4 linked regions of the Homo sapiens genome follow. The protein of the gene in region 1 interacts with the protein of each later gene in a biochemical or structural test. Each region holds a gene or a part of one and is shown in the gene's direction. Other genes may lie near its edges. The genes, in order: PDZD9, MAP2K2, SLC15A5 and ARHGEF16.

Region 1 (3,888 bases):
GCCCAACATGGTGGGCATATGCGCTTGCAGTCCCAGCTCCTCCAGGGGCTGAGGCAGGAGGGTTGCTTGAGCCCTGGAGGTCGAGGCTGCAGTGAGCTGTATTTGTATCCCTGCATTCCAGCCTGGGTGACAAAGTGAGACCCTGTCTCAGGAGAAAAAAAAAAAAAGAAATTAATGTAGCTTCAACAGTAAATACAAGTCATGGACTGGCTACTGCCTAAGCAGTTCCTAAAGGCCTGGTGTGTGCAGACACCCAGCTAGGCACTGGGGGTGTAGTGGTGAACGGCACAGACATGGTCCTTAGCCTTGAGGAACTTAAGGAACTTCCAGCCTAGTTGGGAGAGATGAAAAAGATAAAATATTTTTCAGTAGTGGCTTGGCTGCTGCAAAGTTGATTTACTGTAGGTAATCGAGACAAAGTTTATATAATGTCATCCTATAGCCCATTAAAACAGAAAAAAAAAGGTGTAATGAGGTTGGTGTTCATAAGTACGAAATTGGTGTTTCTGTATGAAGGGCAATGTTAATATCTATTGCTAGAGTAATCACATTCACATGCTGACATGTTTGGTTTACAGCCAGAACGGTCAGGAAATTAAGCTGTTTATTTTCTGCCCTCTTGATAAAAGTCACACTTTTACAACATAATTAAGCAGAATGCCAAGCCATAGCTTTCAGCTATAAACACTGCTTTTAACATTAGGTAAGTAAGCTCATCCGGGGAGGGTTTTGTTTTTGTTTTGTTTTGTTTTGTTTTGCCATTGTAATTAACCTCAGTAGGATGAGCAGCTGTTTCATATTGCTCAAGCTGCAGGTAGCCTTGTTTCATTCTGAAGTGAGCTTCAGATACATGGTTGATTGTATTACCCCCAGCTACTGCTTAAGACCAAAGTAGAAGGTTTTTCTCCACCCTTGTAAGTATTTGTTTTCTGGAATTCTGGGAACTTTTGTTTCTGATAGGATCTAGAGCTATGGACATTTGTCCTTGGCATCCTTAGAGGCTTCTTTTGGGATCAGTGTAATTCCTGATTGAAGCCCAGTGCATGCATCAGAGAAGGCACTTCTTGACCCTTTTCTTCTTTGAGGTTAGGCTTCAGCTGTCTTAGAATGAGGCTGATTGAGGGTCTCCAGAAGGTCAGTACTAGTAAGATCTGAAGACTTAAGATTTTGCCCAATGTGAGCTGGTCCTTAAAAAGCAAATCCTTTGTATTCCTTTCTGAAGTCTTGCTGAATGCCGTTGTAGCAGCCAGGGTTCCTCATTGCAAAAAACAGAAAACACTTCTGTTAATGCACTGAATTTGGGATACTGAGTCTGACAGAATCTCCCAAAAGGCTGGAGAAGCAGGCTTGGAAAATGGTGAGAGAACCAAGAGCTGTGTGTAACTACCCCTAGCAACTAGAAGCTCCTGTCACTCTTTTGCATCTCCTCCTCCAGGTTCAGTGACCCAGGTGGGAGTGTCAAGTAGCTGGATCTCACTCACAGGTCCATGACCTAGCTGCTGGAGGTGGGGACATGGGGGAGGTTGGAGCAAGTGAAAAATTGGTCTTTTTAGCTTCCTTCAATTTGGGGGTTTCGGGGGTTAGTGCTCAAGATGTAGTCCTCTTCCCACCTGCCAGGGACTCGGAAGCTGCATGGTTGCCCATCTTGTTTCTTTCCTTATCCTGCGTTGCCCTAAGGTAGGGAAACCTAGCTGTCAAATCCCTTTAAACCAACATACTCACTGCATACACATCTTACAGTTAAAGCATGCCTAATTGCCCAATGTTTTATACAGAATTATTTGCTCAACTAATACTGCACAAGGGTAGAGAATTAAAATGAAAGGCTTTATGTTTAATATGGTCTATTAACTGTGGAGGGCACTGGAAATTGCCAGGCAGGTATAATAGAAAGTAGGTCATTTATTCACCACTTAGTGTAAGTGGTTTTTTCTTTTCTAGTAATAGCCATTCATTTTATCTGAAACTAATCTATTTTTAGAATCCTAACAGCTGGTTCCGATTATAAATGTTTTTTAGCCTCTGTCACACCAAGAACTTCAGAAACGTCTCAAAAACATCATATAATGTCTACCAATATACTGCTATTAAGAAACATCTTGCATACATTCTTCAGTATGCAAAGGACATTCATATCATGGACATGAACATCTTTATTAAATAAAGGCTGGGCCGGGTACGGTGGCTCATGCCTGTAATCCTAGCACTTTGGCAGGCCGAGGTGGACAGATCACCTGAGGTCAGGAGTTTGAGACCAGCCTGGCCAACATGGTGAAACCCCATCTCTACTAAAAAAAAAAAACAAAATTAGCCAGGCTTGATGGCACATGCCCATAATCCTAGCTACTTGGGAGGCTGAGGCAGGAGAACCACTTGAACCTGGGAGGCGGAGCTTGCAGTGAGCTGAGATCATGCCACTGCACTCCAGCATGGGTGACAGTTAGACTTCATCTCAAAAAAAAAAAAAAAAAAAAGGCTGAAGCCTGGTTTTGGTTCAAAAAGAATCAACAATATGAACCCATAAAATGAAATACCTCACAATAAAGCCAGAAATCAATATAGTCCCTTTAAACCTCTAGTTTTACTGATACATAATTTTTTCCCTCTTCAGGTGATGTTCTGATTAGTGTTGGCCATGCCAATGTGTTAGGATATACTCTTCGAGAATTTTTACAGCTTTTGCAACATATCACTATTGGAACAGTGCTACAAATCAAGGTTTACCGAGATTTTATTAACATTCCTGAAGAATGGCAAGAAATATATGATTTAATCCCTGAGGCCAAATTCCCAGTAACAAGGTAAATAGTTCATTTTAGGAACTCTTTGTTATAATACAGAATCCCAGGGCCTGTGAGGCATAGATGGTTTAATGTGACAATTATCAAATGATAAGGATCATGACAGGAGGACTGGTGACACTGTCAGAGTAATTTCCTGGGTTTCTGGTATTAGATCTGTAGGATCTAATATGAGAAAGCACGATGAAGTCAACCTGGAGTTAAAAAACAAGTCATCGGTTGGGAATTTTGTCCCCATGCCTACCTGTATGGTGCCCCTCTTTCCCGAGTCAGCCCTTAAAAATGCTTCTTGTGGGCCAGGTGTGGTGAATCATGCCTGTAATCCCAGCACTTTGGGAGGCTGAGGCGGGTGGATCATGAGGTCACGAAATCGAGACCATCCTGGCCAACATGGTGAAACCCCGTCTCTACTAGTAAATTACAAAAATTAGCTGGATGTGGTGGCGCGTGCCTGTAATTCCAGCTATTCGGGAGGCTGAGGCAGGAGAATCGCTCGAATCAGGGAGTCGGAGGTTGCAGTGAGCCGAGATCGCACCACTGCACTCCAGCCTGGAGATAGAGCGAGACTTTGTCTCAAAAAAAAAAAAAAAAAAAAAAAGTGCTTCTTGCAAATCCTATTTTCTTTTCCGTATTCAACTTTTTGTTCTCTGGGTCCTTCCCAATAACATCTAAGCCTTTTTAAACTTCTCCCATCTTGGCAAATCCTATCTTCAGTCCACTCTCCTCTCCCTACCCTCTTTAGCCACTGGAGTCTTTTGCATCCACTCCCAACTTGCTAAAAGCTGTATTAGACACCTCTGTTTCCTCGAAAGACGCCACTTCCCAGACACTCCTCCACCCACTTCAATCTAGGCTTTGCTTTCATCCCTTGGCTGAGTCCTTTTCCCAGGGCCACCCATAGCCTTCACACTTCTGATCCCACTAGATTCTTCTGTCTTTATCTTGCTTGGCTTCTGAGCAGCATTAGACACTTAACAATTTCCACCCACTCTCTTCTTGAAATAGCACTTCCCAGGCTTCTGTGACACCACACTCCCCTGATTTTCCTGTTACCTCTGGCCATTTCCTCTTGGTGTCCTTTCTCCTA
Region 2 (3,888 bases), on another chromosome or scaffold:
ATTGGTGTGTCTATGGGGGTACACAGCATGGATCCTTTCCTTCTACACCATGAACCCCTCAAGTGCAGGAATCCAGTCTGTGTCCTCCTGGGGGCCGATGCACCACGGCCACATAGCAAACGGCCAGATGGAGTCTCCCTAGGTAGCTAACCCCTACCCTGGGGGGTCTCTGCAGGGCAAACCTGGTGGACCTGCAGAAGAAGCTGGAGGAGCTGGAACTTGACGAGCAGCAGAAGAAGCGGCTGGAAGCCTTTCTCACCCAGAAAGCCAAGGTCGGCGAACTCAAAGACGATGACTTCGAAAGGATCTCAGAGCTGGGCGCGGGCAACGGCGGGGTGGTCACCAAAGTCCAGCACAGACCCTCGGGCCTCATCATGGCCAGGAAGGTGAGCACTGCGGGGTCGGGGAGGTCGGGGAGTGGTGGGGAAGGTCCCCCTGGAAACAGGAGGCAGGTTGGGAAGGCAGCCGGGTCTCTGCATTCTGATTAGCTCCAGGCTCTGTCCCTCATCCCCACCAGGGACTCTAGGTCCTGAGAAAGGGCCCAGCTTCTGGGCAGATGGGAGCCGTGCCAGCCACACCAGCCACACACAGCTGTGCCCTCCAGTGACTACTTTCTGCCCTGGAGGGCACTTGAAATCCATATTCCCAGAAAGCTAGCACGTGGGGGTTTCAGAAATGCGAGTGTGTTATGGTTCTCCAGAGAAACAAGCGATGAAGACGAAGCGTGTGTGTGTTTGCGCCTATGTGTACAGCCACCTCAGGGCGATGGCTCAGCCAGTGACAGACCGCCTACGCAGCGGTGGCGACGTAAGATGATCAGGCCATGTTTTTGCTGTGCCTTCTGTATGTTTATTTTTATTTTTATTTTTACTTTTTGAGACGGGGTCTTGCTCTGTTGCCCAGGCTGGAGTGCAGTGGCATGATCTTGGCTCACTTCAACCTCCGCCTCCTGGGTTCAAGGATTCTCTTGCCTCAGCCTCCCGAGTAGCTGGGATTACAGGCACACACCACCAGGCCCAGCTCATTTTTTTGTGTTTTTAGTAGAGGCAGGGTTTCGCCATGTTGGCCAGGCTGGTCTGGAACTCTTGACCCCAGGTGATCCGCCTGCCTCGGTTCTCTATATTTAAATAAACAGACAGCAGCTCAGCACTGCGCTGTACAGAGCATGGGAGCCTGGGTGTGGAATGGGCTTTCCAGTGTTTGCACAGTGACGACATCGCCCAGAGAGGGATTTCTCAGTGTATCCCTGTCCTTAATGATACTTGAGTGTATGTGTAGAGAGAGATTTATTCTAAGGAATTGGCTGGAGTGCAGTGGTGCGATCTTGGCTCACTGCAACCTCTACCTCCTGGGTTCAAGGGATTCTCCTGCCTCAGCCTCCCGAGTAGCTGGGATTACAGGTGCATGCCACCACACCCAGTTAATTTTTGTTTTTTTAGTAGAGATGGGGTTCACCGTGTTGGCCAGGCTGGTCTCGAACTCCTGACCTCAAGTGATCCTCTTGCCTCGGCCTCCCAAAGTGCTAGGATTACAGGCATGAGCCACCGCGCCTGGGCAGGCTTTTCCCTGAAGGCCTTCAGCTGATTGGCTGAGACTCACCCACCCTGGGGTGGAGTAATCTGCTTTGCTCAGAGTCTGCCAATTTAAAGGTTAATCACATCTTAAAAACATACCTTCCCAGCAACCTCTAGACTGGCGTTTGACAACTGGGCACCGTGGTCTCACCGAGGAGACACACAAAGCTGACTGTCACCCACCCTTTGAAAGTCTGCAAGCCCTGGTGCTGACGGCCCCCGTGCTTAGTCATCCCGGGCTCCTGGGCCATGATGCAGCCTCTGTGCTCTGTGTTTGAGAATAGTGCCCAGGGGATACAGGGAGGATGTGACCACTTGGGGACAGTGGCTCTTAAACACAGAAGTAGGGGACTTAGTGTTGACAGGGTGTTCAGCTCCTCACCGGTGTTCTTTCAGACCTAGAACGCTGCCTCTTCCTGGAAGCCCACCATCCTGTAGTTCCCCAAACTGGGGGAACGTGACTGCACCTAGTCCCGTGGGTCTGCGCAGGTGGCAGCAGTGCTTGAGGGCCCTGCCTTCCTCGGGAGCAGCGGCTCAACTCCTGCGGGGATTTAGCTCTGCAGCTCTGTCTTCTGGCCTCTAGAGTGCTGCCCTCCCTCCCTCCTGAAGTGTGCAGCCGCGGACTTGCTATTTCTGTCCCCGTACTGCAGGCAGCCTCTTCCAAACCGGAGCAGCCTTGGAAAGCTCAGGTCCGCCTCCGCCCGAAGCACTGGGTGGAAAAAGGCAAGCGTGTGGTTCACACAGCCACAGCAGGGCCTTGAGACAGTGCCAGTCCTCGTGTGTGCCAGGGACCCTCAGGCTTCTGGGGGAGCCTCCAGTGGTCCCTGATGGGCTGGGCAGTGGACATGAACCCAATGCTTGCTGTATCAGCAGCTCCTGCTCCTGCTGACAGGCGCAGGTGAAGCCGGGCCCACCTGCAGCTTTACTGTAGCGGGGAAAGGGAGATCGGGGCCTTTGAACCTGAGGGCAGGCGTGGCTGGGCAGGTTCTGTGGTCTGGTGGGTGGAGATGTCCCAGCATCAGCTCTGGGTGTCAGTACTGTCCTTCCGTCATGTAAGATGTCAGTCATCTTGGGGGAGGCGGGGAAAGGGCGCACGGGACTCTCGTTACTATTTTTGCAACTTCCTGTGCTTCTATAATTCTTTCAAAATTAGGTTTTCTTTAAAGTGCCCGAAAACTCGGGTGGGAGAGGATGCATTGAGCTCGTGGGCTCAGCGGCTCTGGCTGCTATGCAGGTAGGGCTGCAAGGGCTCCTTTCATTTCATCTTATTTATTTACTTATTTTTATTTATTTATTTTTTTGAGACAGAGTCTCGCTCTGTCACCCAGACTGGAGTGCAGTGGCACAATCTCGGCTCACTGCAACCTCCACCTCACAGGTTCAAGCGATTCTCCTCCCTTAGCCTCCTGAGTGGCTGGCATGCCTGGCTAATGTTTGTATTTTTAGTAGAGACGGGGTTTCACCATGTTGGCCAGGCTGGTCTCAAACATCTGACCTCAAGGAATCCATGCATCTTGGCCTCCCAGATTGCTGGGATTACAGGCGTGAGCCACCGCGCCTGGCCCAGTCTCGGTATTTGAGGTCATGCTGGTTTGTAAATGTCTTTTTGGCTTGACCGTGGCCTCTGACCCCTCTCCCATTGGAGCAGCGTCCCCGCGTTACCTGGGCCAGGGAGATAGGTGAAGAACTTGCTGCTTGTTACGCGTGTGGGGCTTCTTTGAATTGTCCATGCTCATAGCAGAGATGAGAGTGTTTGTTCTCGCCTCTGAGTTCCTCCACTCCGCTGTAGCTTACTTCCAGGGTGGCGGTCACACGGCCTGCCCAAGGCCACCTCACAGTACCAGCTGCTGTCTCACAAGTGACGACCTGAGTCGAAGCCGCTGCCAACACCTTTGACGCGTGTTCTCATTAAAATTGAACAGCAGCCTCGTTTTACAGTTGAAGAAACCGAGGCTGTGTGGGGTCAGTGCCTGAATCGGATTCGAACCCTCTTGGATCTGCTCGGACTTGGGAGCAGCTGCCGGGGCTGAGCCTCCAGATCCACTGCACTGCGGTCCCCTAGCTGGCCACCGCTCCCAGCCTGTGTGTTAATTTTTAAAATCTCTTGTAGAGATGAAGGCTTGCTACGCTGCCCAGTGTTGAACTCCTGGCCTGAAGCGATCCTCCCGCCTCAGCCTCCCAAAGCACTGGAATTACAGATGTGAGCCACTGCCCCGGCTCTCTTCCAATTTTTGACAACACCTAATTCAGGATGTTTGGAAGCGCAGTGTGGGCTGCACGTGACTCTTGGCTACATCCAGCTTGGGAGCTGTCA
Region 3 (3,888 bases), on another chromosome or scaffold:
GAAGAGGAAGTCAACTCAGCCCTTTGTGAGGCCACAGCCTAAGCACTGGATGGCCAAACAGCACAGATCACTGGCGTCTGGATATCCCGAGGGCAAACAAATGTTGAGGAAACATCTAATGTCCAGCACCTGTTGTTTCCTGACTTTTTAATGATCACCATTCTAACTGGTGTGAGATGATATCTCATTGTGGTTTTGATTTGCATTTCTCTGATGGCCCGTGATGATGAGCATTTTTTCATGTGTCTGTTGGCTGCATAAATGTCTTCTTTTGAGAAGTGTCTGTTCATATCCTTCACTCACTTTTTGATGGGGTTGTTTTTTTCTTGTAAATTTGTTTGAATTCTTTGTAGATTCTGGATATTAGCCCTTTGTCAGATGAGTAGATTGCAAAAATTTTCTCCCATTCTGTAGGTTGCCTGTTCACTCTGATGATAGTTTCTTTTGCTGTGCAGAAGCTCTTGAGTTTAATTAGATCCCATTTGCCAATTTTGGCTTTTGTTGCCATTGCTTTTGGTGTTTTAGACATGAAGTCCTTGCCCATGCCTATGTCCTGAATGGTATTGCCTATAGGAACACTTTTCCACTGTTGGTGGGACTGTAAACTAGTTCAACCATTGTGGAAGACAGTGTGGCCATTCCTCAGGGATCTAGAACTAGAAATACCATTTGACCCAACCATCCCATTACTGGGTATATACCCAAAGGAATATAAATCATGCTGCTATAAATACACATGCACATGTATGTTTATTGCGGCACTACTCACAATAGCAAAGACTTGGAACCAAACCAAATGTCCAACAATGATAGACTGGATTAAGAAAATGTGGCACATATACACCATGGAATACTATGCAGCCATAAAAAATCATGGGTTCATGTCCTTTGTAGGAACGTGGATGAAGCTGGAAACCATCATTCTCAGCAAACTATCATAAGGACAAAAAACCAAACACCGCATGTTCTCACTCATAGGTGGGAATTGAACAATGAGAATACTTGGACACAGGAAGGGGAACATCACACACCAGGGCCTGTTGTGGGGTGGGGGGAGGGGGGAGGAATAGCATTAGGAGATATACCTATTGTAAATGACGAGTTAATGGGTGCAGAACACCAACATGGCACATGTATACATATGTAACAAACCTGCACATTGTACACATGTACCCTAGAACTTAAAGTATAATAAAAAAATTAAAAAAAAATAAAAACAAACAAACAAAAAAGAAACATCTAATGTCAATGGGTAAGAAATGTTATGGCTTATTACATGAATCTCTAGCTCTTCGTTTAACTTTTTTTTCTTTTGCATTATTTTCCTTCAGTTGCTGGAAATCTTTTTGCTGCATTGTCTGTGATGATAGCTGGCTTCTTTGAAATACACCGAAAACATTTCCCTGCAGTGGAGCAGCCCCTTTCAGGAAAAGTTCTCACTGTTTCCTCCATGCCCTGTTTCTACCTGATTCTTCAGTATGTTTTACTTGGAGTGGCGGAAACACTGGTAAACCCAGCCCGTGAGTAAACACCTTTTCAACTAATGTTAGAACATACTGAACCTTTACACAGAACACATCACCTCAACCAGAACAATTAAAGTGGTATGTCATCTATTCACCTCCTAGAGAGTTCCCACAATACTTCCAGCAAATTTATTTATTACTTTTTTACAAACATTTCATTTCTCCTCATTCCTCTGCCATGCACAGAACAATTATCAATTCTGCCTGGATGCAGATGGAACAAAAGATTTTTAATCTGGTTAAAGGCAATAACCATTTTGTCAGACACACCACAGGAGGAAAACCTCTGCTAAAACCCAGAAGACAACTCCAGAACACTAAGATGTAAAGCCTCTTCTCTTCTCCCTTCCCTCCTCTCACCTCCCCGACTCTCACTCATAGATAAACTCACAGGCCGGGTGCGGTGGCTCACGCCTGTAATCCCAGCACTTTGGGAGGCCAAGGCAGGTGGATCACGAGGTCAAGAGATCAAGACCATCCTGGCCAACATGGTGAAACCCTGTCTCTACTAAAAATACAAAAAATTAGCCAGGTGTGGTGGCAGGCGCCTGTAGTCCCAGCTACTCAAGGAGGCTGAGGCAGGAGAATCACTTGAACCCGGGAGGCGGAGGTTGCAGTGAGCCGAGATTGTGCCGCTGCACTCCAGCCTGGTGACAGAGTGAGACTCCATCTCAAAAAAAAAAAAAGCTCATTTATACTCCTCCAAAAATGACACTTAATGTTCTTTGAGAGTATATAAACATGCAAATGAAATGAAAATTTAAGCCAATTTTCCAGATAACTTGATGTCTTTGAATTAAATTACACTAGATTAAATGAGATCACTAATGTTTCATAAGACAGGTTCAAAATAAGTTTATTAAATATCAAGGGTTTCTGAATTATCTAGATTGCTTATATTAATTAAACTAGCCACTTTACAATTTATCACAATATTTCAGTGGCTTCTTGCAATACAGTAATGTGTGTGTACATCTATTTATCTCTGTAATTGATTACATCTTATGTTTCTATCCTCCTTAAATTTTCGTGTAGTAGGAGTCCTGATTGTAACTCAAGCTCCCATTATATTTTATGGATAATATTTTTATAACTTCTAACTATCTTCCGACCTCCATTATCTCTCCCATTCTATCAACTGGCACATGGATTTTAGAGTAATCATCCTAAATAACAATTCTAACCATTCCATCTGTGTCTACAATCTTCAATGATTCTATTATCTTAAAAGTTGTTTCCAAACTCCTTAAAATAAATATTTAATAAATATGTATTTATACACACACATACTTATGATACCAAGGCAATTCATTAAATAATGAAAATAAAATTAAGTTGGAGTATATGCATATATATGTGTGTCTCAGACTTCTTTTTTTATAATTGTATATCATTTCATCCCATATATTTTGCATACATAAATTACTTTATGAGATTTTAAACTGGGGACCTCACTGTTTAACACTGCAAGGAAGACAAAAGAAGTGTAAAGCAATGCTACTACACAAATATTTGTGATCTTCTCTGATGTTATTCCCAAAAATGTGTTGGAAGTAGTCAGCCAAAATTTTCTGGGCTGGTATAGAGTAAATAATGAGTAAAAGTAATGAGTGAATATGTGGAGGAAATTGCTAGCCAGCTTAGCAATAGTGGTTCAACATTCAGAAGCCAGAGAGGTACAGAAAACCAATGACTGTGAAAAAGGCAGATCATGTGCTACACATCACTTACTCCACCACTCCCTGATTTACTCCAGGAAATCAGGCCTAACTGAGGTCTAAGTCACTTGACTCATCTGCTATTGGGATAATGGACCAGGGACTGAAAGAATTTGGTCTGATATCTAGCTTTTCCATTACTACCTACATAAATTTGGGAACTCATTTAACCTCCAATCCTCACTTTTCTGATATTTAAAATAGAAATAATTGTATTCTTCTTTATATCACAGCATTGATAGGGTAAGCATCAATGGGAATGAGAGACTACTCCTTGAAAATCAAATGACATAACATATGAAAGGGTATTTCAAACTATAAAATCAAGTATTACCTTTCTGGGAGACAGTACAGCACAGAGGTTAGGCTCTATGGTCTTAAAGTCAGACAGATCTGAATTCAAACCCAGTTCTGTCACTGACTAACTCTGTGACGTTGGGAAAATTATTCCTCATTTCTGGGCTTTTCTCATCATCTATAAAACAGGGAGTTGTTCAAAGGACTAAGTGGAAGATTTTATGTAAAGCAAAAACCGCAGTGCCCCGTATATAGACAGCATTCAATAATTAGCAGTTATAATGTGTTGTTATCATTACTAAAAGTAATGGCAAAAACCACAATTACTTTTTCACCAACCTAATATT
Region 4 (3,888 bases), on another chromosome or scaffold:
ACTGAGTGGTGGTGGTTATTGTTTTTATCTTTATTTTTTAAAAGGGAAAGAATGAAAGCAGCGAGTTTTCTCCATGTCGTTACCTTTTGAACCTACGAAGCTCCCTGAGCATAGGGAGCATGAGCTTGTCTGTGATTCGGCAAGGCCTTGGTCACTGCGGCGCAGACGCAGGCCTCACACCGGCCAGGCCTGTTACACGCTTTGCACGCTTTACACTTCCCACCGTACCTTCAGGAGGTGGGCCTTGCTCTTATCATGCCCATTTTGCAGATTTTGAAACTGAGGCACGGAGAGGCAGCGTCACTTGCTCATTGACCACATGCCTGGGTCAGGGCTGCTCCCTGACACGTGTGGGGAGCCCCTGAGCAGCAGAGGGGAAAGCTGGGAGGCCTGAGAGACCAGACCCTCGGAATCCATTGCTCAGTGGCCTGAGGGTTGCAAGTGCCCAGGGGGGTTGCAAGCAGCCCGGGGCGTGAAAGCTCACTGTGGGCCTGACCGCTGTGGCCGAGCAATGCGCCGTCACTCAGGAGGTGATGTGTAGCCACAACAGCCCCGCAAAGTGCCTGGAAACAGACCTCTGGGCCCGGCTCCTGGAGGCCGTGTCGGCTGGGGGCTCTGCACATCTCGGTCACACGGGGTCCAGGCCATTGAGGCTCTGCCTGGCCACGCGTGCCTATAGTCATGGCAGCCAGGGAAGACGCAGAGGCAGGTCGAGAGCTGGCTCTCCACATTCCTACCTGGCAGGCACGTATGTCCCAAAGCCAGTCTCAGGACTGTGCCATTCCCAAGGGGCAGAAGGGCAGCCCTGCCTCGGGTCTGGAAGGAGGAAAGTGAGAAATGGGAAGCAGTAGTGTCAGGGGCAGGGTGCCAGCCCCGGACCATGAAGGGAACAGTGGGGTAGAGATGGGCTCGGGGGCACGCGCTGCCAGGAGGGGCGGGCAGGAGTGTGGCGGGGGCGGGGCAGCCCACGGGGTGTGGGGATCGGGCTACAGAGATGTCTACAGGGCAGCTCCCGCTCTCTGCTGGGGGGTGTACGTGGGACTGTGGGCTGCCACCCCTGCCACCACCACACCTGCCCAGTGGCCAGGTGTCATACTGGACTCTCGGGCTGGTGACTGGTGGGGCTCCTGAGACCAGAATTGTCAGCTTTATGCCCAGTTCAGAAACGTGGAAAAATGCAAGCGTGTTGCCTGGTGTGTGGAAAGGTTCCATGGACAGTCCGCGACAGTCATATCACTGTGTGGCTAAGAGAGGGGAATCACACAGGCCTGGGCTCGGGCCGGGAGCATGTGGGCAAATGCACCTGCCCTCCCCCCAACCCAGCAGAGCCTGGCTCAGGTGCCTGGAAGACCCCAATGAGGCAGAGGCTGTGGTCACTGCCGCTGTGGCTGATGCCGGCCTCAGGAAGCCCCCCAGTGCAACGCCATGACCCTTGCGTTCACCACGAGGAAGTGGTTCCAGGAGGCTGCATGGCTGCCAGGTGTGAGCCAGGATTCCAGGCCAGGTCTTCAGGGCTCCAGGGCCATGCACCTGAGCTGCCCCACCTGCCTCCAGGCTCAGGAATGTGTCCTCAGTGCGTGCTGCCCATCAGAGGAAGCAGTGTGGCCTCCCAACCTCCAAGGTCCAGCCTACCCCCATAGGCTGTGCCCACCTGGTCCCTTGGAGCTCGGAGAACCAGCGCCTGCCCAGTCCCATCCTGTGTCCAGCCTCCGGCCTCAGACATGGCTGGCTCCCAGTGGTCAGGACTGGCTGTGCCACTGATCCACTGTGCTCCTGGCTGCGTCGCTGTCCTTGCCTGCTGTGTCCTGGGAGCTGTACTGGAGCCCCGGCCAGACATATGCAAAGGGGTAGGGGGGTGGACACCCGCGGGGGCAGGGGAGAGCAGCCTCACGAGACCTCACTTCTGCCCTTCCCCCAGGACCCCACAGCCGCCCAGCATGGCCCAGCGGCACTCAGACAGCTCCTTGGAGGAGAAGCTCCTGGGACACCGCTTCCACTCGGAGCTCCGGCTCGATGCCGGGGGGAACCCAGCCTCCGGGCTCCCAATGGTCCGTGGCTCCCCGCGTGTTAGAGACGATGCCGCCTTCCAGCCCCAGGTCCCGGCACCCCCACAGCCTCGGCCCCCGGGGCACGAGGAGCCATGGCCCATCGTCCTGAGCACAGAGAGCCCGGCGGCCCTCAAGCTGGGCACCCAACAGCTGATCCCTAAGAGCCTGGCTGTGGCCAGCAAGGCAAAGACCCCAGCCCGCCACCAGAGCTTCGGGGCGGCTGTACTTAGCAGGGAGGCCGCCCGGCGGGACCCTAAGCTCCTCCCAGCCCCCAGCTTCTCCCTGGATGACATGGACGTGGACAAGGACCCCGGGGGCATGCTGAGGCGGAACCTGCGGAACCAATCCTACCGGGCGGCCATGAAGGGCCTGGGGAAGCCAGGTGGCCAGGGAGATGCCATCCAGCTAAGCCCTAAGCTCCAGGCTCTGGCTGAGGAACCCAGCCAGCCTCATACTCGGAGCCCGGCCAAAAACAAGGTAGGGGCCTGCTCGTGTGGACCGTGGGGAGGGGGCTGCTAGGCAGAGGGGCGGCCTGGCCGTCTCCACCACCGTCATCTTCTGCATCATGGCAGCTGCCGTTAGTAAGCACCTGCTGCATGAGGGCTCTCGACTGGTTTATTCCAGTTCAGCCCAGTCTGTGAGTGTGAAGATCCCACCTTACAGATGAGGCAGCAGAGGCTCGGAAAGGTCGAGGGTTCTACCGAGGCCCCCAGACTCTGGTGTCCCCGCTCCCAGCCTTGGTGGAGGGCAGATCCCTGGAAGGGCCCAGTCCCTGTTTCCGAGCTCTGGACAGGAGCCGGCCTGCCTGGATGATAGGGTTCAGGGTGACCTGGCTGCAGTGACTGGCCTGGGCTCCATCTGCCCCGGCAGCTCCAGACAGGGACTCAGGCGGGAGGGACTGAAGCGGGGCAGCTGTGCGGTGGCCTGGGGCTTAGGAGAAGTCTGCACATTCCCTCTGTACACAGAGCCCTGCTTCCCTGCCTGCTGGTGGTGGCTCTAGGTCTGGGGCATGGTGGCGGCAGACCCTTTGCTGGGCAGGGTGTAGCCTGACTGCATGTGTCACTAGGGCCCAGGGGACAGAGCGTCCAGCTGGGGCTCCTGGGCCCAGTGTCCCTCATCCTCGGAGTCACCATCCCCTGCGGCTGGGGGCCAGGCCTTCATTTCAGGCAGCCCTGGAGCTGGAAGCCACGTTCAGGGAGAGTTGCGTGGTACCTGGACACCCACCCAGCCAGGACTGCGACTCTGGCCACCCTGCTTGGTCTCTTTAGCTGGTGGGTCTGGGCTCAGGCAGGGCTGGGGTAGGGGAGGCGAGCTGCCCTGGAACCGCCCATCAGGAGGCCCTGGCAGCCCGAGCACCCTCAAGAATGCAGAGCAGATGCAGGGCTGGCCCCAGGGGCGTCCTTCTTGTTGGGCGCCTTGCTCAGACGTGTTGGAAAACAGGCCCCAAGCATATGGGCTGCCTCAGTGAAGGACGAGGGCGGGGGCAGGTGCTGTGTGACCCAGATGAGTTCCTGAACCTTCCTGAGCCTTGGCTTCCCCATGTGGAAGCAAAGATCACAGCCGCCCTCTGGGCATCCTCTGGGCAGTGTCCACGGAAGGTGTGTGCCAGAGCGTCTTCTTCACTGGTTGCCGTCCCAGCTGCCTCCTCAGGCCCAGCTCCTGCCCAGACTGGGAGTGGCAGTGCCAGCCTCAGGAGACGCCAAGACCACCTGTCAGAATGTCCCATGGGCGTCCACTGCAGGCCGATGGTGGCTGAGGTGGGGTCCCCCATGTCCCCAGCACCAGCCACTGTCCTCGGTCACAGCTCTCTCTTGTGCCTACCTGAGACGCCCAGGACTCA

The links.
Region 2: the proteins of PDZD9 (region 1) and MAP2K2 interact in a test that uses a peptide from one of them, tested with the Homo sapiens proteins (one large-scale study listed by IntAct).
Region 3: the proteins of PDZD9 (region 1) and SLC15A5 interact in a test that uses a peptide from one of them, tested with the Homo sapiens proteins (one large-scale study listed by IntAct).
Region 4: the proteins of PDZD9 (region 1) and ARHGEF16 interact in a test that uses a peptide from one of them, tested with the Homo sapiens proteins (one large-scale study listed by IntAct).

Annotation. Positions count from the first base shown.
Region 1 is NC_000016.10:21,987,515-21,991,402, reverse strand, and holds part of PDZD9 (PDZ domain-containing protein 9), read left to right. Parts: intron 1-2,611; coding exon 2,612-2,801; intron 2,802-3,888.
Region 2 is NC_000019.10:4,113,917-4,117,804, reverse strand, and holds part of MAP2K2 (dual specificity mitogen-activated protein kinase kinase 2), read left to right. Parts: intron 1-175; coding exon 176-386; intron 387-3,888. UniProt on the Homo sapiens protein: Catalyzes the concomitant phosphorylation of a threonine and a tyrosine residue in a Thr-Glu-Tyr sequence located in MAP kinases. Activates the ERK1 and ERK2 MAP kinases.
Region 3 is NC_000012.12:16,222,046-16,225,933, reverse strand, and holds part of SLC15A5 (solute carrier family 15 member 5), read left to right. Parts: intron 1-1,331; coding exon 1,332-1,520; intron 1,521-3,888. UniProt on the Homo sapiens protein: Proton oligopeptide cotransporter.
Region 4 is NC_000001.11:3,461,148-3,465,035, forward strand, and holds part of ARHGEF16 (rho guanine nucleotide exchange factor 16), read left to right. Parts: intron 1-1,918; coding exon of another isoform or gene 1,919-1,937; coding exon 1,938-2,525; intron 2,526-3,888. UniProt on the Homo sapiens protein: Guanyl-nucleotide exchange factor of the RHOG GTPase stimulating the exchange of RHOG-associated GDP for GTP. May play a role in chemotactic cell migration by mediating the activation of RAC1 by EPHA2.